Linked DNA regions of Homo sapiens: all the other regions are linked to region 3. Evidence: fine-mapped expression QTL. A gene starts in region 3. Each other region holds a variant in brackets. All regions are shown on one strand. Distances are from middle to middle. Region 1 overlaps TSHZ2 (teashirt zinc finger homeobox 2). Region 2 overlaps LOC105372666 (a long non-coding RNA gene). Region 3 holds the start of TSHZ2 (teashirt zinc finger homeobox 2).

Region 1 (8,186 bases), 310 kb after region 3:
GAGTTAGCAGTGCTGATCCTCTGCATAATCAAAAATCCACAGATAACTTTTGACTTCACGAAAACTTAACTACTTATAGCCTATTGTTGACCAGAAGCCTTACCAACAACATAAAGTCAATTAACACATATTTTGTATGTTATATGCGTTATATACAATGTTCTTACAATAAAGTAAGCTAGAGAAAAGAAAACGTTGTCAGGAAAATCATAAGAAAGAGAAAACATATTAACTATTAAGTGAAAGTGGATCATCATAAAGGTCTTCATCCTTGTCATCTTCACATTGAGTAGGCTGAGAAGAAGAAGTAAGTAGAGGGGTTGGTTTGCTTTCTCAGAGGTGGCAGAGGCAGAAGAAAATCCATGTATAAGTGACCCACACAGTTCAAGCTCATGTTGTTCAAGGGACAGCTGTATTCAATCTTCCATTGTAGCATAAAAGCAATGATAGATTATATCCCAGTGAATGGTAGTGACTATGATCCAATACAACTTTATCAAAGGACACTGAAATTTGAATTTCTTGTCATTTTTGTGTGTCATAAAACATCATTCTTCTTCTGATTTTTCAACCATTTAAAAATATAAAAACCACTCTTACTTTGTTGGCCCTATGAAAGCAGATGGCAGGCTGGATCAGGCCCACAGGCAACAGTTCACCAACCCCTGATCCAAAGCAATCCAGCTCTCTCACTTTTCTCTTTCTCGTCACCCTGTTTTATTTCCTTCATAAAATTACAACTATCTGATATCATGTTGTTTATGTATTTTCTCATATCTAGCACTGTGCTAGGCTCCAAGGATACAGCAATGAACAAAATGACATTTTCCTTTCCTTCACAGATCTTACATTCTTGTTGGAGGAAATAGACACAAAATTAAAAAATAAATAAGGCCATTTAGGATCCCATGAAGGGAATAGAGCATTATGGGCCTGGGTAGCAGTGGTGCTAATTTACTTTGGGTGCTCCAGGAAGACTCCTTTGAGGGGCAGCTTCTGACATATGAAGGACTGAGGGAGCCACAAATGAGAAGAAGAGGATTTCAGACAGGGACAGCAAGTGCAAAGGCCCTGAGGCAAGTAGGAGCTGGGCTCGTTGTGGGGAACTGAAAGAAAGCCAGTGTCCCTGGAATGCTGTGAGCTCAAGGTGACAGACTCAATTGTGCAGGCCATGGTAATGAGTTCAGATTACTCTGAATACATTGAGAGGCTTTAAATAGGGAAAGAGCATGACCCAATGGGCATTTTTGAAGATGACTCTGCTCCTGTGTGCAGGAATGGATTGCACACAGGACATGTATGTGTGTGTGAATGTACCTTTCCTTCCTTATCAGGAAGCTCCTTGAAGACCTCAGGCATATGAAGGCCTCAACAAAAACTTTATAAACTTAATGCATCAATTAAAACCATTAACACAGCCACATAACTTTTTCTTAACCTCCTCACTAGCAATCCTTTTTATAGCCTGGTTCCCAAAGCAGGTCAATTTATATCATAAAACTCAAAAATTACAGCTTATAGCATAAAATGACCTCCCATGATATAATGTGGCAAAATAAGCGAATTAATACCAGAGGTAGTAAATGTCTGGGCACTAATGTGACTTGAGTATGAAATATGTTTCCATCGCATTAGGAGTAAGGATCCAAAATGAGAGGGGGATCGGTGACCTGGCACCACCTACATGGAGCTAGCTATGCTAAGTCCTGGTTTAGAAGATCCACTTGGTATGAATGCAACCACTTAGGTATTTTTGATTCTTCTCATCATTTAGTCAACAAGTCGTTTTTTTGTTTGTTTGTTTGTTTGTTTTTTGTTGTTGTTGTTGTTGTGTGTGGGGGTTTTTTTGTGTGTTTTTTTGAGATGGAGTCTAGCTGTCGTCCAGGCTGGAGTACAGTGGCGCGATCTCAGCTCACTGCAACCTCCGCCTCCTGGGTTCAAGCGATTCTCCTGTCTCAACCTCCCGAGTAGCTGGGACTAGAGGTGCGTGCCACGACACCCAGCTAATTTTTTCTATTTTTAGTAAAGATAGGGTTTCCCTGTGTTAACCAGGGTGGTCTCGATCTCCTGACCTCGTGATCCGCCCACTCATCCTCCCAAAATGCTGGGATTACAGGCGTGAGCCACCACGCCCGGCCAGTCAGCAAGTATTCCTAAAAGTAAACTGTATTTAGATACTATGCCAGGCTTGTATCCAGAAATGAGCAAGGCAAAGAAAGCCTCTGGCCTCATGCAGTTTATGTGCTGTTGCTGTCATGGAGCAAACAATTTAATCAAAGAGAATAATTTCAGTGCTGTTAGTTGTAAGAATGCTGAGCCAAAAAATGGGGAAATGGAAGGCTACTTTAGATGGGTGGTCAGAAAAGTCTTTTCTGAGAAACTGACATTTTTGCTGAGACCTAAATAATGAGAAGCAGCCAGGCATCCACTGAGTCAAGGAATGAGGGCTCCAGGCAGAAGGAACAGCACATGCAAAGTTCTTGAGGTCAAAAAAAGCTTGGTGTATTTAAAGCATTATCTAGTACAGAGGTTTGTAAACCTCTTTTGTCAAAAGGCCAGATAGTAAATGTCTGAGGCTTTGTAGGCCATACAGTGTCTACTACAAATCTTCAACTCTGCCATTGTATCACAAAAGCAGCCATAGGTGATATGTAAATGATTAAGCATGGCTGAGTTCCAATAAAACTTTATTTATGAAAATAAGTGGAGGGCCAGATTTGGCCCACAGGCTAGAGTTTACCAGCCTATGGTCTAGTAGGATAGTGTCTCATGTGGGGGTCCTAGAAGCAGATCCTGACATCAGGGTTCCTGGGCTATTAAACCTATTGAATCCCTGGTTTCTCAGGAATGTGCTCCCAGGAAGAACCAGTAAGGGAGTAGGGAAGCAGGACAGGGAAGGAAAGAAAGCCAAGCAAGTCCTAGCCTCTGCCTGATCCCATGGGGAGCCTCAGAGTTCCACCTGTCTGTAAGCAAGGGCTGGGCTACCTTGGCTAATGACTGATTGACTCCACATCAATCAGTCATTGGCTCAAGGATAGCCAGGGGTACACACTTGAAGGCAGCAAGGGCACTCTGTGTGTACTGGCAGAGCAGCTTCAGCGACCAGGGGACATCCCCAGAAGAGAGCTGCAGGTGCACCTATTAGAAAGTAAAACACTCAGAAGCCAGACGTGGGCAC[A/G]AGGATATAGTATCCAAAATCCAAAGGCATCCCTACTGTGTCCTCTACAGATGCATTTCCCTGTGGCCAGGTTCTTATCTAGCTCTCACTTGCATAGAAAAATGTCTCAGTTTCCCCAAAGTTACCTTTGTGAATAAAGGTAGACTCTCCACCTACCTCTCAGAGCTGATGTTAAAATATATCAAGTTCTTTTGTCCAAAAAAAGGATCAAAAGAAGAGGTGACTTTCACCTGATTGTCACTGATAAAATAATTAATTTACATAGCAATTCAAAATAGTGCAAATATACAGGAATCACGTTTTTGAAAGTGATCAGAGAAGCCTGGCCTCTGGCTTAGCCTTTCATATGCAGATCAGTGAGGGAGAGGGAACTGGCATTGACTGAGTACCTGCTGTGTGCATTGTGTCAAGAGCTTTTCTATCTTTTTTCTGATTTAACCCTTACCACACGCTTTAAGTAGCGATATTACCCCCATTTTATGGATGGGGAAACCGAGGTTCAGGTATAAGCCCCTCAAGGGCAGAACAGGGGCTGTAAAATTTAAAATCCTTAACTCATATTCACCGAATGGACCTCAGAAAGGTCTGTAACATACTGAGGGTGACCATGACTGACAGGTGACAGAGTTAGGATTTAAGGCCGGTTCTGACACTGAAGTCTGTGCATTTTTCTAGTGGCACCTTTCAGACTGGTGATTCGAAGGAATAAATACAAAATGGCTAGCCAGTGGCGTCATGCAGTGCTCTTTGTATAAGGAGGTGGCATTCCTGTGCCAAGCATGTGATTTGTGTCAATTGCTTGCTGTCGTGAGGAGGCCTTGCCGAGACTCCTTCACACATTCTCACTGTGCCACTCCCAGATCAGAACAGACACATGCAGTCCTCTTATCCTGTTCCCTGGACAAATCTTTCCCAAGACGGAACCTGGGACATGCCTAATAATGATCTGACTTGCTGGTTCAATCAACAAATATTTATTCAGCATTTATTATGTACCAGGCACCATCAAAGCCCTGAAGACACAAACTTTTATGACAATCATAATTAACATGGAGTTAGCGCCCTACCAGTGTTATCTCATTATTCCCTTCCCACATCCTCCAAAGTAGGATCATGGGTCCCCATGTTGTAGAAGAAAAAGCTAAGCCTTAAAGAGGTTAAGTAAGTGGCCCATTATCATACAGTTAGGAAGCAGCAGAACAAGAATTCAAATGCAAATTTGCCAAACTTCATTATCACTGCCAGAACTCATGCCCTGTCCTGATTCTTGCAAAAAATCAGGGCTAATAGTTATTGAATGCTTACTATGTCCGAGGCACTCTTTAAAACTCTTTACATACATCATGCCATTTTATCTTTCCTGCCATCACACCAGATAGGTCCCTGTCATCACCCCTATTTTACAGATGAAGTACCTAAAGTCAACAGAAATTAAGCGCCTTGACCATCACCACACAGCTTTCAGCTGGTGGAGCTTGGATTTAAACCCCAGCTCTGCTGGACTTTAGGGCTTGCTGGGAAGCAGAGTTATAATTTTTTAATTACCAAAAAAAGGAAAAAATAAAATAGTAAGAAGAATAAACATATACTGAAAGCTTACTTATGTGCCAAACACTGGGTTTAGTACTTCTTTGTTTTAGCTTATTCAAGCTTCCGTGCTCTGGGAAGTAGGTGATTTTCTTATTCCTATTTTACAGTTGAAGGAATGGAGGTATAGCAAAGTGAGGTCATCCTACCCAGTCACACAAATGTTTTGTGATGAGGGCAAAATTCAATTACAGATTGGTCTGACTCTCCAAGATAAACAGATTAACCCTATTTTTATCCAGGGAAGATTTTCCTGCATGCTTGGTCTGTGACCTGGGTTTATGAAGAATGAATAGAAACCTGTGCTCGCCTGCTCCATCCAATTGACTGCAATATGCAAAAGAGGCTTGAATGTAGAGCTTCGAGGAGTTTGGGGTGAAAGAAGGTGGCAGAAGGAAAGTAAAAACGGGTACAGTAATTCCCAGGGCTCTTTGTCAAGTTCCTGACCAAATGCCCGGCAGGGGCTTTCTTCCTCTTCTTCCACTTCTTCCTTCATTCATAAGAGTTTTACCGCCTCGAACAACGTGAAATGTGTAGCTTGGGCTTGTTGAGAATGGAGTGTGTCTGTTAAGTGTTGCTTCTTGAATGCTGGACCGCCACCTCCATCTTAGTTACGCACGCCCATCTTTTTCAATCTAATGAACTCCAACCATCAGTGCAACTTAAGTTCGGCTGTCTGTTCGTGCATAGTTAATATTAAAAATGTACTAACAGTGTGGCTGAGAAATCAAATTATGCACATAAATATGCTGGCATAGCACAGGCGGCGGCAGAAGCTGAAGTTAGCAACACTGATGCCAGTTCACATTTGCAAATCTCCCGTCAATCTGTCATTAAACATGTTATCAAATGATGATAAGTGTATGCTTCTTGCTTGCATTGGTGAGCCGATTCCCGATGTTGATGCACATTAATGGGATAATACGCATTAACATAGTTGTGCTTGGATGAACACAAAACATTTTTTATCTGTCTCCGTTTGTTTCCCCCTGTGGCCCCGAAGTAAGTGTTTTGTGTTATCAAATTGCCAAAAACACGGGAAAACATATTACTTTTAATTAGCAAATCTTGTTGGGATTTTCCCCCCTACACGCCCGTCCCCCCCACCCCCATTGTGTGATGGCAATAAGAGAGAGAAAGAGAGAGGAGAGAGAAATAGAGAGAGGAAGAGAGAGAGGAACTCTACTGTCTTCTTTCAGTAAAACGATTAATGTCAGCAACTCAGAAGCTGGCAATTATGTTCTGTCTTAATGCACTGGCCTTTCATCTGGGGCCCTTACTCTTGACAGGCCTGATCGTTTCAGTTCAGTGATATGAAAGGCAGCAGAGGAAATGATCGTAGACATCCCGGGTCTGTCACGAGGGCCGGCGCTGCAATTCGGATCCAGCTCCACGTTCTGAAGCTGTTCAGCAGAGTCAGAAGCACAGGAGACAGATGGTGGCCCCAGGCATTGCCCAGACTTTGGGTGTCACTGTGCTGAGTGGGGAAGTTGTAGCTACCACCATTTCCCAAACTTAAGAACTGGGAAAATGTGCAAGCCCCCACAAAGTGAGAAACACGGTATTAAAAAGTTAAATGTCCTTTTGCGTTGATCACAGAGCACCAGCTCAACGCAAGGATAAACGTGAATGCGGGCAGTGATTTCATACAGCAGTGTTTGGATAGGAGTCTCTTCTCCTGAGGATCCAGGAGAGGATTGGATTCATTTTTCACCAAAATGAAAATAAAATTTAGATATTCTTGATTGAAAATTCAGAACTTTATGAAATTTTTTTGCAGATGTTGGGTCAGTACAATATCTGAGAAATGGGGCCAGGTGCGGTGGCTCACGCTTGTATCCCAGCATTCTGGGAGGACAAGGCAGGCAGATCACTTGAGGTCAGGAGTTCAACACCAGCCTGGCCAACATGGTGAAACCCCATCTCTACTAAAAAGACAGAAATTAGCTGGGCATGGTGGTGCCTGCCTATAATTCCAGCTACTTGGGAGGCTGAGGCAGGAGAATTGCTTGAACCCAGGAGGTGGAGGTTGCAGTGAGCCAAGATGGTGCCACTGCATTTCAGCCTGGGGCCGCAGAGCAAGACTCCGTCTCCATCTCAAGAGAAAAAAAAAAGAAAGAAAGAAAGAAAAAGAAATGGTAGTGGTGCCCAGCTTCCTTTGTGAAGTGATGTTCTGAGCCATTAGGGTTATATATGTTTCCACAAAGGATCTGTCAGGACATCTTTGAGATTGGATTGATTCATTCATTCAACACAGATGGATTGAATATCTACTATATGCCAGAATTACTGTAGCATCAGGGAGTAGGACAGAAATGATTCCTACCCTCATGAAGCTTTGGGTATTTGGGGAAGGGAAAACAGAGGTTTTTTTTTAAATTGCTACATAATAATCAATTTATTTTTATTATGAAAAGTGAAGGTAGAGGTATATGGAGTGCAGTTGTTGTAGCATTTACTTCTCGAGCTCAGTGGAAAATGTTTTCTGCCATTAATAATGCCAAAAGGTTATGTGTTTGGCCTTCCTGGATTCTTGTTTACATGTGTTTTAAAATTAACATTGACTTCTTGCCATTTGTGTTTGTTCCTAAGCGGAGTGAGCGGCTTATTAATGATTAGAATTATTGTTGCTATTATGAATGCACTAATTAAAAGAAAATTCTGTCATGAGGCTTTGTGAGGCAACACAAGACTTTACAGTTAGAGACGTCAGGTCTGGAAGTGTGGAGACAAAAGTGTGAAATAAGAAAACAGAGTTCAGGATGAGGAAAAGAGTTCTCAAGATGTCTACAGTCCTTCATTAGAGATTCTTTTTCAGGGCATTTTCCCTAGTAAGGGTATGATGAAAATCCAGTTGTTTTTTGATTGGAGGTGTCACCTTTATTGTTTTTCTTTTTTTTTGGTCTTAGGGCAGAAATAGCCGGCTTCTCTCCAACTTGAATTCTAAGAACATTTTATCTTCTACAGCTTTATTCAAATATGTAAAAACAGGCACAGTAGCTCACACCTGTAATCCCAGCACTTTGGGTGACTAAAGTAGGAACATCAACGGCTTGAGCCCAGGAGTTTGAGACCAGCCTGAACAACACAGTGAGGTCCTTTCTCTACAAAAATAATTTATTTTTACTTAGTCAGGTAGGGTAGTGTGCACCTGTAGTCCCAGCTACTTGGGAGGATCACTTAATCCCAGGAGTTCAAGGCTGCAGTGAGCTATGATTGTACCAATATACTTCAGCATGGGTAACAGAGCAAGACCCTGTCTCAAAAATACACACACACACACACACACACACACACACACACACACACGTAACACTTCTGAATTGATGACCAGATGCCAGACCAAGGATGCCAGACCAGGACACAGTTCCTCCCCGAGGTTCATCATCTAGGGGACAAGGAAGTGAAGCGAATGCACAAT
Region 2 (8,186 bases), 620 kb before region 3:
TTATTTTGATGTGACTGCTAACACTGCTACTACTGTGAGTCTTGTTAATACAAAACTATTAATCCTGTTCTTGTTCCCTCTGTGCCCGTTGCTGCGTGCTGCCAATGGGGAAGATACAACATATAGGAAAAACCAGATTCTTCACTGCAAATACTGCTTTGCATGCTTTTCTTTCATTGCTTTGGGCTTCTGGGAGAAATCAGAAGAAAAGAAACAAGGCAGTGAATGGTGGAAATCATGGGGGAAAGATGGCATATTTGGGATCTGCAGATGGATATTGAAAATGCAAACTAGTTTGCTGATTTGTAGTTGTATTAGGGTGGGTGTCCAAACTGGTGGTGTTAGTAATGGAATTTGGAACTTCTCAATGGATATGATCCTGTGTGCAGGCATGTGGTCACCTGAATAGTACCACTCAAAACCCCCAAACCTAAAAAAAAAAAAAAAAAAAAAATCCCATTATTTGCATCTCCTACTCTGTTCTAGAAAGCTTAAAGTTTATTGTAAAGGTCTTTGCTTTGTGGAAAGATGCTTTTTGGTAAAGAACATGCTGTTTGTTGGAGCACTGCATTAGTTGTCTGTTGTTGCGTAACAAATCATTTCAAACCTTCATGGCTTAAAACAACAGTAAACATTTATTACCTCACAGTTTATGTGAGTCTAGGATTCAGAAGTGGCTTAGCTGGTAGTTCAGGTTTGAGGTCTCTCATGAGATTGCTGTGCAAGTGTCAACTGGGGTCACTGTCATCTGAAGGGTCGATTATGGTGGATTGGGGGATCCAGTTCCAAGAAGGCTCACTCTTCCAAGAAGGGGGCCAGCATGCTGGTGCTGGCTCTTGGCAGGAGGCCTCAGTTCTTCTCCACATGGGCCTTTTCAGAAGTCTGCCTGAGTATCTTCATGGCATGATGGATGGCTTCCTCCAGAGTGAGCTAAGAGACCATGGCATAAGCTAAAAAGTGTTTTATGAACTGGTCTCAGAAATCACACCACTGTCACCTCCACAGTTTTCTACACAGTTCAGTCCTATTTAGTGGGAGAGGGGTGTATACAAGAATATGATTACTGGGAGGCTAGAATCACCTGGGCCATCTTGGAGGCTGACTACCATAAGAACCAGCCATGCACCAGACCCTGCCTCTATGTGCTTTACCTCATTTAATCTTTAGAGGAATGGTGCCAATACAAGGTAGGATCTACTGCTATAAGAAATCAAAGGTGAATTTCACTAATTTGTCTAAGGTCACACAGCTAGTGAGTGGTGGAGCTGGGATTGTAATGTATACACCTGAGTTCCAGCCTATGGATTAATGCTGGCTTCCATATCTTCCTCAGAGAGACCTGGGTCCAAGTTTGAGCACTGCCCATTGCTTGCGTTTGGTCTTAGTAATACAACTTAATAATTCCATTTGTGTAGCTCAAATGCAATTAACCGTTTGGAATGCACACATGCAGGAGTGGGCACATCAAGGCATTCAGTAGATCAAAAAAATCTTTTCCCTTAAAATTTTCAAAATCTGAGGTACATATACAACAAGTAGTAAGAGATAAGTTTCACACAGTACATGGATGAAGTGCTTTTTTATTTTCAGAGTTATATATTTATTTTAATGTATATTTAAAAAAATGGATGAATTCCACTTGAAAAGTTACTTAACTGAAACTCAATTTTGGTGTTTGTAAGATAAGCATAAAATGCTAACCGCTTAGAGTTGTATGGATTAAAAAAGGTAATGTATATCAAGGGCCTAGCAATTGAAAGTTCATAGCAAGCACTCAATAATATTTACTACTATTAACTCGTGATAAATGTAAAGTGTTCCAGAAAATATGGAAGTGGTGTTCAGGGTTAAGAACATAGAGCCATAATCAGAAGCACTTTTTTCTGTGCTTCTATATTTTAAGAGAGAAACTCTTAGTGATTTGGATTCCATTTAAAGTTATGACACAGTGGTAGAGGAAGTAAGTAGGAAGTGAGATTTTCTTCTTAGTTATGAGAATGGCATCAGTGAGAATTAACTTTTACAGCCACAGTCTTGATAAGGTAAGATGGTTAAAAACAGATGCTTTTATATTTAGAAAACTGATTGGCTACACTGGGTATATAAATGTGCTTTGGAAAAATTTTCACTTCCTACTCCGAGGTCGCCTAATTGCCACAGATACAGATGTTCTGCTTCTTGTTCCTTTGGGTATGAACTCACACCACTCTGGTTTACCTTAACTAGAGGGACTTACTCTCCCACAATTTAATTTCCAAGCTCTAATGCAAAACAGGCTTATTTGCTTTGACAGGCAACTACAGGATAAACAGAAAGGGGCAAATTTATATAGTCAGCTAGCACTCTGCCATTATGAGTAATATGGCTTAACAAGAAAGGAAATGAAGAAATAAAAAAAGATCCCAGACACCATGAGATTTCCCCTAAAGAACTTATTTCCAATGAACCCTAGAAAATAGAACCAGGACAGGCTCTCAGAAGAACAGGAGAAACAAATATTGATTGATTTATTCATAATTTGTGTCCCATCTTCTGCAAAAATCTGATGTGGTTTAGAAAAAAGAAATGTCATAGAATCTTTTTTTTTGCAAGATATTATTGCCAGAGGCATTCAAATAACTTTGGAATAGATGGTCAAATTCCAGGATGTCAAGCCAGTGGTATCATTTCCTCTGAACTTGAAAATTTTTGCTTAGAATACAATCTTACTGATGAAAACAATCAGTGCTGAAAGAGGATAATGTTATCTAAAATGTACTATGTTTTTCCTTTTATATAATATTGGAATGAATGCATGTTTTTGAAAAATTAAAAAAAATTAAAAGTAAAATGTAGAAATAAGAAGTCATCCTTTATTACTATTAACACTGTTAATAGTTTTTTGTTTGTTCATTTTTTAATTTTTTTGAGACAAGGTCTTGCTCTGTCACCCAGGCTGGAGTGCAGTAGTGCGATGATGGCTCACTGCAGACTTGACCTTCTGGGCTCAAACAATCCTCCTGCCTCAGCCTCTCAAGTAGCTGAGACTACAGGCGTGCAACACCATACCTGGCTAATTTTTATATTTTTTGTAGAGATGAGTTTCACCATGTTACCCAGGCTGGTCTTGAACTCCGGGGCTCTAGTGATCCATCTGCCTTGGCCTCCCAAAGTGCTGGGATTACAGGCGTGAGCCACCACGTTATTAATAGCTTTGAATATAGAGTAAGATTCATTATTTCTGGACAACTCTGTGCCCATATCCCCTTTCTAAAAATGCCACAGTTTCCTTTTGGGGAAGTGTTCTCCCCCTAATTTAACCTTTATATTAGTAGCTGAGGTCATCCCGAAACTCCTCAGACTGTGCATCACAGGTGAAGTTGGAATGGACATTGGAGATGCCTCCATGTTGTGCAAGACACCCTGGGATGAGTTTACATATTACTATTAACATCATAGAGCAAATGCTTTTACCTGATGTATTTCCTTGATATGAGGCTGTAGGCCAGAGTCAGCATGAGAGACCCTGAACGCATGGTGTGAAGTTGTGCAGAGAAACAAAGGAAAGGAGAGTTGAGAGGCTGTGGAGGGCAGACTGCCAGCCATTGTTAGCCTGACGACCAGTCCTGTGTGGGGGAATGAGCTTGAACTCCTGTTGGGTTAAACTGGCTCTTACTCCAGAGAGGAAATCTGTTGTTGCTGCCTGGCCAGCATCTGTTTTCCCTTCTTCTGATATCAGCAGCTCGGCTTTCCTCTGGGAACCCCTTTTTCCCCACTTTCTGTCTGTGTCTAAATGATGGGGCTGACCTCCTGTGCCTGACTCCAGGGATGGGTGCATAATCCAGGTCTAGCCAATTAGTCAGTTCTACCCTCTTGGCCACAGGGGTTACTTCAGAAACAGACACATGACGTCCCTCAACCCAGTAACACTCAATTCTATTACGGATTTTGGAATTACCCAGCCAAGAGTGCTCTTTTTAATTGTGCTGGGTTCGTTTGATAGCTTTGAAAATATAAATGCTCACGTTCAGTGCTAACTTAGAGAATGCAGCCAAGACCAGGGATCACCAGCAGAGCTGCTTGACGGTGTTGTTTGAGCACCAGCAGCGCCTGAAAGTTGTAACCCTTAAACTTGATGACATGAGTCAGGACATTTCCTTTTTTGTTGTTTTTATTTTCTGCTAAGACATTTTGAGTTGTGTTTCTATTATATTCAACCAGAAGAGC[G/C]TGGCTAATAGACTGCATTCCCTGTAATTGCAGAACCCAGCTCCCTCCCACAGTCAACCGGTGCATAGCCCTCCATGTTCCCTGGTTGGGTGTTTTTCATCTGCTCATGAACAGATGTGGTTGTCAGTCTCTTGGCCATTTTGTCCTCCTTCCCCTGCCCTGGTTTCATCACTGCTTTTCTTGGGGACCACCACCTCTCACTGGGCCCTGTTTTGCATGCACTTCCATCCTGAAATGCTGGTGATTTGTTAATACTCAACTACAAATTGGGAGAGTAAGCCACTCCATACCCCTCTTTCCTGTATGTCTCTGTTGGTACCAGTCTATTTTGCTTGTGATCAAATCTAAATGAGTTCTTAGCCAAACAGCTCTTTTTTTTTTTCCTTATAGCTTTCTCTTGACTCCAGACATGAGCGTGTAGGGGTTTGACTTTGGAGCAACTGGGAATGTCAGTATCATTATGTATTTGGAATTTCCCCTGCCCTCACTAACCAAGCTACGCTTAGAATGGCAAGCTTTTCTCCTTAAGATCTTGACTTCTGTCCAAGGATATTCCTTACTTCACCAGGCCTCTGCTGGCCATACCCACATAGTGGACATCTTGCAAAGCTGGCAGTGAACAGAGGGGAAGCTCAGTCTGGATCCTATTTCTGAGAGACCGGAATTCAGGATTTGACTTTTTCTCTTGTCGTTAGACCATGTATATCCACTTTTGCTTTTATAAGTTTTCCAGAGGCAAACAAATATAACAATCCAAAATGCCTCTTATGAGGAAATTAGTTACTTTTAGTAAAACAGTTTTTGTTAAAGCAGAGCTAAAGGAGCATCTATTGCCCAGTGTTTAAGTAGCAGACACTGTTGGCTACTGATTGAAAATCCATTTTCCCGGTTTATTCCTTTCTCCCTTGATGCCAGAGCCCACTTTCTACAATAAGGGTGAGCTCCCTGGACATTTACTTTTCAGCCTCCCTTGTAAATAGGGCAAAGCCATGTGACTTATTTCTGCTAAGGGAACCTGAGGGGATGTTTGTTTGGGGGCAGCTGCTGTTGCTTCTGCTGTTGCATTAGCTGCTGCTTCTCCTCCCTTGGCCCTTTCCCTTCACTCTCTCCTCTTCCTCTTGCTTTTTAAGCAGCTTTATTGAGATATAATTAACACAGTATAAACCACACATATTTAAGGTGTACAATTTGACAAATTTTGACATATGTACACACCTGGGAAACAATCGCTACCGTTGAAGTAATGAACAAATCCATCAACCCCAAAAGTTTCCTCTCTGCCCCTTTGTAACCCACTCCTTCTTTCTCTCCCTGCCCTTCTCAAGACCAGGCAAATACTGATCTGCTTGATGTTAGGATACATTCATTTATTTTTTTCCAGCAGTTTTTTTTTTTTTTTTTGAGACAGGGTCTCACTCTGCCACCCAGGCTGGAGTGCAGTGGCAATCTCGGCTCACTGCAAGCTCTGCCTCCCGGGTTCAAGCAATTCTCCTTCCTCAGCCTCCCAAGTAGCTGGGATTACAGGCATGCACCCCCACAACTGGCTAATATCTGTATTTTTAGTAGAGACAGGTTTTCACCATGTTGGCCAGGCTGGTCTCGAACTTCTGACCTCAAGTAATCTGCCTGTCTCAGCCTCCTAGTGTAGTAGTTTTAACAAATGAATTCATATAGTATGTACTATGTACTGGTTTTTTTTGCTCTGACTTTTTTCTCTAGTCATAATTATTTTGAGGTTTATCCACATTGTTACATCTCAGTAGTTCATTCCTTTTTCTTGTTTAGTGGCACTCCATGGTATGAATATATTACAATTTGTTCATCCATTCTCCTGTTGATGGACATGTGGGTTGTTTTGAGTTTTGGGCGATCACAAATGAAGCCATTATGAGCATTCATGTACAAGTCGTTGCATGAACATGTGCTTTCATTTCTTTTGGGTGAATGCTGAGGAGTAGAATAGCTGGATCACATAGTAGATTTATGTCTAATTTTTAAAGAAACTGCTGTTTTCCAAAGTGGTTGTGCAAGTTTACATTTTCAACAGCATTGTATGAGATTACCAGTTGCTCCACATCCTCACCAACACTTGGTATGTCAGTCTTTTTACTTCTAGTGATTCTGTCAGAACGTGTGTATTGGTATCTCACTGTGATTTTCATTTGAATTTTCTTGATGACTAATGACACTGAACATCTTTTCATGTGCTTACTTGCTATCCATATATTTTTTCGTGAAGTGTTTGTTCAAATCTTTTTGGGTTAATTTGCTTTTTTATTATTGAGTTTTGAGAGTTCTCTACATCTTCTGAATACAAGACCTTTAGCAGATCCATGATTTGCCAATACTTTCTCCCAGTCTGTGGCATATCTTTCCATGCTTTTAACATCATCTTTCTAAGAGCAGACATTCTACATTTTGGTGAATATAGCCACTCCAGGTTTCTTTTGATTAGCATTAGCACTGTATATGTTTACTTATCTTTTTTTTTTAACCTATTTGTGTCTTTGTATTTACAGTGGGTGTCTTGTAGGCAGAATTAAGATGGTCTTTTTTAAATGAAATCTTTCAATCTTTGTCTTAAACCATTTACATTTAATGTGAATATTGACATGATCATGTTTAAATTTATTATTTTGTGACTTGATTTCTATTTGCTCCATTTATTCTTTGTTGCATTTATTGTCTTTTTTAGATTAGTTAAAATTTTTTATGGTTCTATTTTATCTCCTTCATTAGCTTATTAGCTATAACTCTTTTGCTATTTTACTGATTACTTTGGGTACATAGTATAGATCTTTAACTTATCACAGTCTTCCTTCAAGTTATATTACACTACTTCATATACAGTATAAGAACCTGATAATTGTAAACTTCCATTTCTCCCCTTTTGAGAGAAATAATTTTTGTCATACATTTGACTTTTACGCATATTATAAACCCCACACTACATTGTTATTGTTTTTGTCATTCAGTAATTTATCTTTTGAAGAAATTAAATAATAAGAAAAATTTATTATATGTTTTCCAATAGTTACCATTTCTAGCGCTTTGCATTCTTCTGTGTAGATTCCAGTTTTCATCTGGTATCATTTTCCCTGGCCTGAAAAAATCCTTTAACATTTTTCTTAGTGTGGTTCTGCTGATTATAAAATCTTAAGTGTTAATTTTGCCTTCATTTTTGAAATGTATTTTCACTGGGTATAAAATTCTAGGTTGACAAACCTTTTTTTCTCATTTCTTTAAAGGTGCTGTTTTACTGTCTTCTTACTTGCACTGTTTTTGATAAGAAATTACGACTATTCTTATTTTTATATACACACATTGTGTATTTTTATATTTACATACATACATATATAAAATATACATACACAATTTATATACATTGTGTATATTTTATATATACACACATTGTGTAATTTTATATTATCTTATTTTTATATACACACATTGTGTGTATATACACTGTGTAAACATATCTTTTTTCTATTCTACATTTAAGATATTATCTTTACATTGGTTTTAAGTAATTTGATTATGATATGCTTTGGTCTCATTTTCTTCATGTTTCTGATGCTTGGGGTTCATTGAGCTTCTTGGATGTGTGTGTTTATAATTTTCATAAAATTTGGAAAATTATCTGCCATTCTTTTTTTAAATATTATAATTTTTTTTTACCTTTACTGCCTTTGCTTTTAGGGACTCCAATTGCATATCTATTTAGGACTCTTGAAGTTTCCCACAGCTTACTGATGTTCTGTTTATTTTTAAAGGAATATTTAGCATAGTTAATATTCCTGTTACTTTATATTCACTAATGTTTTCTTATGCAATGTCTAATCTGCCAATAATCCTATTCAGTGTATTTTTCATGTCAGGTATTGTGTTTATCTTTTATATTAAATTTTCTCTGCTTTTAAAAAATATCTTTCACATTTCTATTAAACTTTTTGGATATATGGAATACAGTTATGAAATCT
Region 3 (8,186 bases):
CATCACCCCTTGAACCCTTAAGTTACATTAATATCTAAGCCTGACTTGGCTTTATAGTTAACAACATTGAGTATGTCTGATTACAAAAGAACAAACAATTTGGGGGCAGATGTTCTCTAACTGGTGTGAGCAGAAGTTTCACTTGTAGGGATGGATGGGTTACATGTTCAAAATACAGATCTCTAAGCCTTCATCCGGAATTTTCTGATTCAGAAGATCTAGGGTAGTGATGCTAAGCCAAGGACGATTTTGCCTACCAGGGGACATTGGGCAGTATCTGGAGACAGTTTGCATTGTCACAACGGAAGCCTGGGATGTTCCTAAACATCCTACATTGAACAGGACAGCCCCTCCTAACAAAGAATTATCAGACCTTCAATGTCAATAGGGCCTGGGTTAGAAAATCTTGCTCTAGGGCAAGGACCAGGTACGTGCATCTTAACAAGGGCCTCAGGAGATTTTAATGCGGAAGCAGAAGCCTTACACGGTGTCTTTTTGATACAAGGGCTTCAGTATCAGAGTTCCCTTTTTGCCTACCCGTTTGTTATATGTAAGACTCAGCTTTGACTTACCTCTTCCCTTGAAGCCCCGCCTGGTAACCATCCTTCCTTTCGCCAAGTTCAGGGTAATCACTCCTCCTAAGAACACCTTCACCACATACTTATAACCAACTGATCTTTGGCAAAGCATATAAAAACATAAGTTGGGAAAAGGTCTATTCCAGTGTTCTCCAGCCTTTTTTTCACCAGGGACTGGTTTCATGGAAGACAATTTTTCCATGGACCAGGGCAGGGTGGATGGTTTTGGGATAAAACTGTTTGACCTCAGATCATTAGGCATTAGATTCTCATAAGGAGTGTGCAACCTAGATCCCTTGCATTCACAGTTTACAATAGAGTTAGAGCTCCCATGAGAGTCTAATGCCCCTGCTGAAGTGACAGAGCTCAAATGGTAATGCTTGCTTACCCCTACCTGCTCACCTCCTTCTGTGCCACCTAGTTCCTTACAGGCCATGGACAGGTGCTAGTCCATGGTTCAGGGGTTCGGGACCCCTGCCCTATTCAATAAATGGTGCTGGGAAAATTGGATAGCCACATGTAGAAGAATGAAACTATCCCTGTCTCTGACCATATATAAAAATTAACTCAAGATGGATTAAAGACTTTAAACATAAGACCTGACACCATAAATATTCTAGAAGAAAACCTAAGAAAAACTCTTCTGGACATTGGCTTAGGCAAAGAATTTCTGACTAAGCCCTCAAAAGCAAATGCAACAAAAATAAATAAATAAATGGAGCCTAATTAAACTAAAAAAATTCTACCCAGTAAAAGAAACAATCATCAGAGCAAACAGACAACCTACAGAATGGGTGAAAATATTTGCAAACTATGCATCTGACAAAGGACTAATATCCAGAATCTACAAGGAACTCAAACAAATCAGCAAGAAAAAAAAAAAAATAATCTCATTAAAAAGTGGACAAATGACGTGAATAGACATTTCTCAAAAGGAGACAGACAAATGGCCAACAAACATAATGAAAAAATGCTGAACATCAATAATCACAGGGTAAATGCAAATTAAAACTGCAGTGAGATAGCACCTTACCCTAGCCAGAATGGCCATTATTAAAAAGTCAAAAAACAACAGATATTGGTGTGGATGTGGGGAAAAGGGAACTTTTATACCCACTGCTGGTGTGAATGTAAATTAGTACAATCTCTATGGAGAACAGTATGGAGATTTCTCAAGGAATTAAAAGTAGATCTACCATTTGATCCAGCAACCCCACTACTGGGTATCTACCCAAAGGAAAAAAAGTCATTATGTCAAAAAGACACCTGCAGGCGTATATTCATTGCAGCACAATTGCAAAGATATGAAATCAACATAAGTGCCCATCAACTGATTATTGTATAAAGAAAATGTGGTATATATATCTATATATGTGTATTTGTGTATATATATGTGTGTTTGTGTGTATATACACACATATATATACACCGTGGAATACTACTCAGCCATAGTAAAGAACAAAATAATGTCTTTCACAGCAACTTGGATAGAGCTGGAGGCCGTTATTCTAGGTGAAGTAACTCAGGATCAAAAACCAAATACCACACGTTCTTGGTTATAAGTGGGAGCTAATGCATGGGTATGCAAAGGCATATGGAAAGATATCATGGACATTGGCAACTCAGAAGCGAGGAGTATGGGAAGGGGGTGAGGACTGAAAAACTACCTATTGGGTACGATGTACACTACTCGGGTGACGGGTGCACTGAAATCCCAGACTTCACCACTATGCAATTCATCCATGTAACCGAAAACCACTTTTACCCCTAAAGCTATTGAAATAAAAAAAATAATAAAGCAAAAAAAAACACCTCTAGTCCCAGCCTGCATCAAATGCCCTCAGTTGCTTTGCCCTCTCACTGGAAGGAGCACTCCTTGAGGGCATGGTCTAGGTTCACCTTGTTCACAGACTTGCCCCCAACACCTCAAAAGGTGCCTGGCCGATAGCAGAACTCAATAATCACATGTTTGTTTCAATCTCTCTGTGCTCAAATGCCATATCCTACATTGAATCTAGAGCCACCCACCCCCTTTTAGACACTATTACAGCACTCAGCTTAACGTCTTCATGGAGCGAATCACTCAAAGTATCCTGTTTATTTGCTTGCTTACTTTTCATTCATTCAACAAATATTTTACTGGGCACTTATTATATGTCTTGTGCTTTGCCAGCACTTGGGGATATAAGAGAACAAAGAGGCAAAAATCCTTCCTTCCATTGGAGCTTACATTCAAGAGGGGAACTTGTACAATCAACAGAATAGAAAACTGTCTATAACCTGTGTGACACTCACTGATCAGCTCACTGGGGAATAACAAAATGGAGAAATGGGGCAGGGAGTGTGTGTGTGTGTGTGTGTGTGTATTTTAGGTGAGGTAGACCTTTGGGAAAAGGGGACATTTAAGCAAAGATTGGATAGCTGGGGGGCACTTGTCTGCACTCCCCCATTAGAATATAAATACCAACATGGCCACCACCTTCCCTTTCTCTGTGGCCTCTGTGTCTCCAGAATAGGCACATAGTAGATGCTCAATAAACATTCTTCAAAGGAAACAAAAAGAGGAGTATATGATTAGACCTTAAAGTAGACAGAAGGGAGATTTTTGTTTTTGTGACCACCCATTGATTAGCGAGAAAGTGGGAGGGACAGGGGCACTAAATTGAAGGGGTCGTGGGGAGCACATTTTGGTGGGGGCAGGTTAAGACTTACAGGATGGAGATCCTCACTGGATAAGGTCCCCTCCCCCTTCCCAGCCCCGAGCAAACCTAAGTTCTCCCTCTCCTAAGATTGTGCATGGTCCCTGCTGGTCAGCCAACCTGGCCCCCCTGAATCTCCCTCCACAGCCTCCCAGCTTCAGAGTTCAGCCATCATCACACTGCCTCCTTTTCTCCCGCACCCCTTCCCTCCTCACCTCCTTTCCTCCCGCCCCCGCCCCTTCCGCCTCCCGGAGGGGTGTCCCCGCGCCCGGTGGGCACGCCCTCGCCCCGGCGGAGAGGGCGCACAGAGGGGCCTGGGCCGGCGCGCCGGGGCCCCCGCCCCCAGCCCCTCTCCCCTGCGGGACGCTGTCCCTTTAATAGGCTCCCGCTGCCTGGCGCTCTGCGGCTGGGGAGTAAATTTCTCCCTGTCATCAGGTCGCGGGGAGAGGAGGAGGAGGAGGAGTTTGTTAATGTTCAGTTTGTTCAGCGGGATCGATGTTTGCTGGCATCGCCTCGCCCTGTCTTGTGTGTGTGTGCGAGGGTGTGTGTGTGTGTTTGTGTGTGTGTGCATATGTGGGGGGTGTGAGTGTGTGTGTGCGAGGAAGCGGGGGTGCGTGCGCGTGTGAGTGCGTGTGTGAGTGTCTGTGTGTGTGTCTGTGTGTGTGTGTGAGTGAGTGAATTCCAGATTTTCTGTCTTTCCAAAACCCGCTCCTGTCCTCTCGCATATCACTCACAGACGGGGATCTGACAGCAGCCACAAACCTACAGTGAGTGATCGCTCTCCCCCCGGCACGAATCCGCCATAGAGATCGGCGAGGAGGAGGAGGAGGAGGAGGAAGAAAAGAAGGAGGAGGTGGAGGAGGAGGTGGAGGAGGAGGAGGAGGAGGGAAAGAGGAGAAGGAAGAAGAAGAAAAAGAAGAAACCCACTACCTTCCCAGGATTGCCTTTTTTTTTTCCTTATCTTTACGCGCGAGTGTGCCTGTGGCGCGTGTGCGCCCCTCGTCCCTTCCATCCGAACCCGGGCTTGGATGTTTAATAAAGAAATCAAGTGTCTCAACAGTCACCAAAAAAAAAAAAAACCGCAAAAACAAAACCAAAAAAATTCCAAAAGCAAAAACAAAAAAGAGAGAGGAAAAAAAATTCAAAATAAACAAACAAACAAACAAGGCAGAACCAACCTCTACTTCAAAGCAGCCGGCACAAGCCACCCGTGTCTGCCACCCAGAGAGGGGGGTCTCTGGCCCGTGGTGGAGGAGTTGCAGGGGGGATCGTCAGGGGGACAGAGGCCGAGTGACGTCCTAGGAGCCACCGGGCAAGAGGCGGAGGAGACCCAGAGAGGCCAGAGAGACAGCGGGCCCCAGCGCGCGGCTCGGGGCTGGGGCGCCAGAAGTGGGACTGGAGCGAAGTAGAGGATGCCGAGGAGAAAACAGCAGGCACCCAAGCGGGCGGCAGGTAAGAGAAACGGCTCCGCTTCGGGGCTGCCCTGTGCGCCGAGCTCCTCGCCCGCCCTCCTTGCCCCTGGGTGCCCGGGGGCACCACCCACTTAAGCTTTCGGGGGAGTTTGCGCCGGGTGCCCTTCTAATAACCCCGTCCTCTCTCGCCTTCTCTGGTCTCCCAAATCCTCCCCTTCCAAGCTCCGGTTGGGTTGGGGTGAGCTATCCCACCAAGCCTTTCCTCCTTAAACTTTCTTTCCTCCACCCTCTACCCCACCCCTAACTTTCTTCCAGTCTGTTTCTTGCCTCTCGGGCCAAAGTCGGATTGAGGATTTGGGGTGCGGAGTAGGGAGACAGCCCCTCCACCCCTGCATCCCTCTGCGTGGTCAGTGCCAGTGGCTTTTGGCCTCCAGGGATAGCGTCTCCTCTCACTGGGGCTTGGGGCGCTGAAGTGTGAGGCATACCTAACACTCGGGCTGCAGGCAGGCTTTGGGGCCAGCAATAGGAGTTTAGCGTTGATCACCAAGGTGGACAAAATGCCCCCAGGAAATGGATGACTCTTTGCATATATTTTCTAAAAGGATCCATATTTGGAAATGTAATTAACAATTTCCCTATTCTTTAAAAAAACCAAAAAGGGTTGTAGGGGGGAAATTCCCCATAGAAATTTAAACAGCTCTGGATTTTCTTTGCCTAGAGAGTTGCAAACTTTGTGAAATGATTCGTACTGTAAAAACTATCCCATCTGAATCCTTACTGCCCCCTAAAAAAGATAAGAACAGGTTAATGGATCAGTACAATAGACCTTCTAAAGTTTTTTTTTCTTTTGGGTTGCTTAATTGCTTTTTTAATAGTATGCTGGGGTTTTGTTTCTCGGAAATGTAATATGAAAGTTCATTTTTCTTCTGCCAGACCCACCCACTGAAAAATCAGCTTTCCACTTGATTGCTAGTTTTGATTTGACATTTGATTGATCACCTGTCATCTCGCTGCCTTTGATCTATTCATTCTTGATATATATCAATAAATCACTCACCATGGTAACTCAGAGTGCCAGTGACGCAAACCTTGCCCTCTATATTCAGAGCCAGACATGCACAATTATTATCTTGTTTGGCTTTTAATGTGGGCGTTTTTATTTCTTTGTGTCCTTTAGTTGAATCAGGGCTTTCGCAAAAAGCTTAAGTTTAGTTGTTTTTTCCTCTCTCTCTGTCTTTACCCTCTTGATTTAGGCAACATTAGGTAAGACTGGTCTTCTGCAGACCCACCTCCACATTTCATTCTGTTCCAACTCTAGCAAAACATAGGGAGAAGTTTGGTGGAACACTTTCATAAACTTTGCAAAGTCACCCTTAGAACAAATCCAAAGTTAGTTAGGAATCTGAGGAGAGTGGGCATCCCTTGTCTGAATGTGTTGAACCACCAAGCTCATCCTCCTTCCTCGCCTGAGTGTTTCAAAATATCCACAATTATCATTCCTTCTGAGCACAGAATTGCTTCCCTATTTGTAAGTTGGTTCAAGTGGCATGCAGAAATATTGATAAAGCGTGGATTCATATATTTTCTGATCGTTTCCCTAAAAGCAAAATAATTAAAATATTTTTAGTGAGGTACGTATTTGGAACTTGCCTCATCAGTGAGGTTTTCTTTTTTCAACTCTAGTTACTTCTTTGGAAAACAATGTCTCTTTCCTACCGTTGTCTCTTTCTGCATTTAACTCACTGATTTCCTAAAACTTAGGCTGCTTTGCAATCTGACAGCGTGTGGATGTGTTCAATGGCCTTTGAGACCCAGGAACAGTGAGCCTGCTGCATCTAGTTCTGGCAACATAAGTTTAAGTGTAGCTACATTATTAGAGATAACGTCCTTATTGTTGTCCCGAAAGAGAACCCTGGGCTACGGTCCAGCAAGAAGTGATACTGCCCTGAAAATTACTCTTTTTTTTTTTCTGGTTGTTCCGGTAAAGACTATCAACAACTAGGCAGTAATTTAAATTACCAGAATGACTGGACATGTCTCCTTTAGTAAGCTCATTACAAAAAGTGCATTGCTCAGAATTGCTCGACTTTGATTATAATTATCCTACGATCGATAAGGATCCAGGTGTACGTAACATAACACTGTATCACATTATTTAAATCAGGTCCTTTTCATTAAGCTGTGTCTGTTGGTGCTGGCTAGTTTATTGGTGTGTGTGGGTGTGTGGGGGTGTGTGTGTGTGTGTGTTAGAAACTTGTAACTATAGTTTCAGTTTTCTGGCCTATTATATTCCTACTGTCTTTGTATGTTTGTTTTGTATGATTCTTATTATTTTCACCAGAAGCGGAAACCCTTTTTAAGCTGAAAAAGGATGATTCATTTCGTACACAGTGAGGGCCCTCTTACCTTATTTATTTGCTCACATATTAATAGAGGAGACAGTTTTTCATGCAGTGTTTCTTCTGTTCATCTAAGGTCATCAATGCCCTACTCTATTTCAGCTGAAGTGGTTATTCACAAGTAAAGTTAGCCACTTTGGGGTTCTGTAGTCAGTTAACATCCAGGGAAGGGGAGAAGGTGGGTTCTAAGATTATGGCCATACTAACTTTTATCACTGCTTAAAATTAAACACAATGCACAACTGTAAGTAATTACACCCAAGGACTGATGTTGAAAGCTTGATTTCTAGCTTGATTAATGAATAATGGGAGATAGAAAAAGCCTGTGAGTGGATCCGAGCTGAGGCTCTCCCGGAGCGCTCTTTTTCCCAAGAACTGTTCCAGGCAATTTGATTCCTTTGTATTATTAGTTATAAGTTCCATGTTTCAAGGAATCAATTACAGAACTTTCTACTAAAGCAGGTATCTAAACAGAATAAACAAGATGATATTGTAAGTGATGAGGAATTTTAGTCTTTATTTGTTATGTTCCTCCCCCTTCAGGGGGAAGGGATGTGAGGGGACAATTCTCTTTAAGGAAACAGCTAAATCAGAGTATTTCCCTCTGAAATGTCATTCTTCCTGGCTTTCTTAAGCTATGCTATTCCACCATACTATTACTTAGGGCAAGAAAAAAAAAGTTGAGAAAGCAGCCTACAGTACCCCAGGGGTTTGTGTTGTGTGTGCATGCTTGCTTCCTTGGATGTATATTTCACTCACCATTAAAATACATCCACTATTACCTGAAAATATTGCAGGATTCAGTACCAGCATTTTCCCCTTCTATGCATTTCAAGGGAGATAGAGAAAATGGCAGGAAAGTAAAACAGAACGGTGTTTTGATTTGTTTGCATTTTGCAGGATGCAGAGTGGTTAAAAATTTAAAATTGTAGACTTAGAATCTAACTCTTGATTTTCTACAGCCTATCTCAGCCTCTGTGCGCGCACATAAATAATACGTATTTTATTTCACCATACTGAACTGCTTTTATATTAATGACAGCCAATTGCAATAGAACACACAATCTTTTGTGAGCACATCTTGTGAATATATCTTTT

Evidence for each region. PIP is the estimated chance that this variant, and not a neighbour inherited with it, causes the effect. A credible set is the group of variants that fine-mapping cannot tell apart.
Region 1: its variant is the best candidate, but not a certain one, in a credible set for the expression of TSHZ2 in whole blood (TOPMed, PIP 0.86).
Region 2: its variant is the best candidate, but not a certain one, in a credible set for the expression of TSHZ2 in whole blood (INTERVAL, PIP 0.79).

The regions. Positions count from the first base shown.
Region 1 is chr20:53,278,853-53,287,038 of GRCh38, forward strand. All of the region lies in intron 2 of TSHZ2 (teashirt zinc finger homeobox 2), which reads left to right. Among named protein-coding and RNA genes, the nearest start is that of TSHZ2-AS1, 220 kb to the right of the region's middle. RefSeq lists enhancers at 3,265-3,820, 4,083-4,689. The variant A/G (reference allele first, on the strand shown) is at 3,179.
Region 2 is chr20:52,346,375-52,354,560 of GRCh38, forward strand. The region is part of intron 4 of LOC105372666 (a long non-coding RNA gene); the gene reads left to right. Among named protein-coding and RNA genes, the nearest start is that of ZFP64, 160 kb to the left of the region's middle. The variant G/C (reference allele first, on the strand shown) is at 4,207.
Region 3 is chr20:52,968,605-52,976,790 of GRCh38, forward strand. It overlaps TSHZ2 (teashirt zinc finger homeobox 2), which reads left to right and starts at 3,754. Exons shown (of 3, transcript NM_173485.6): 1 at 3,754-4,729. The coding sequence starts at 4,690.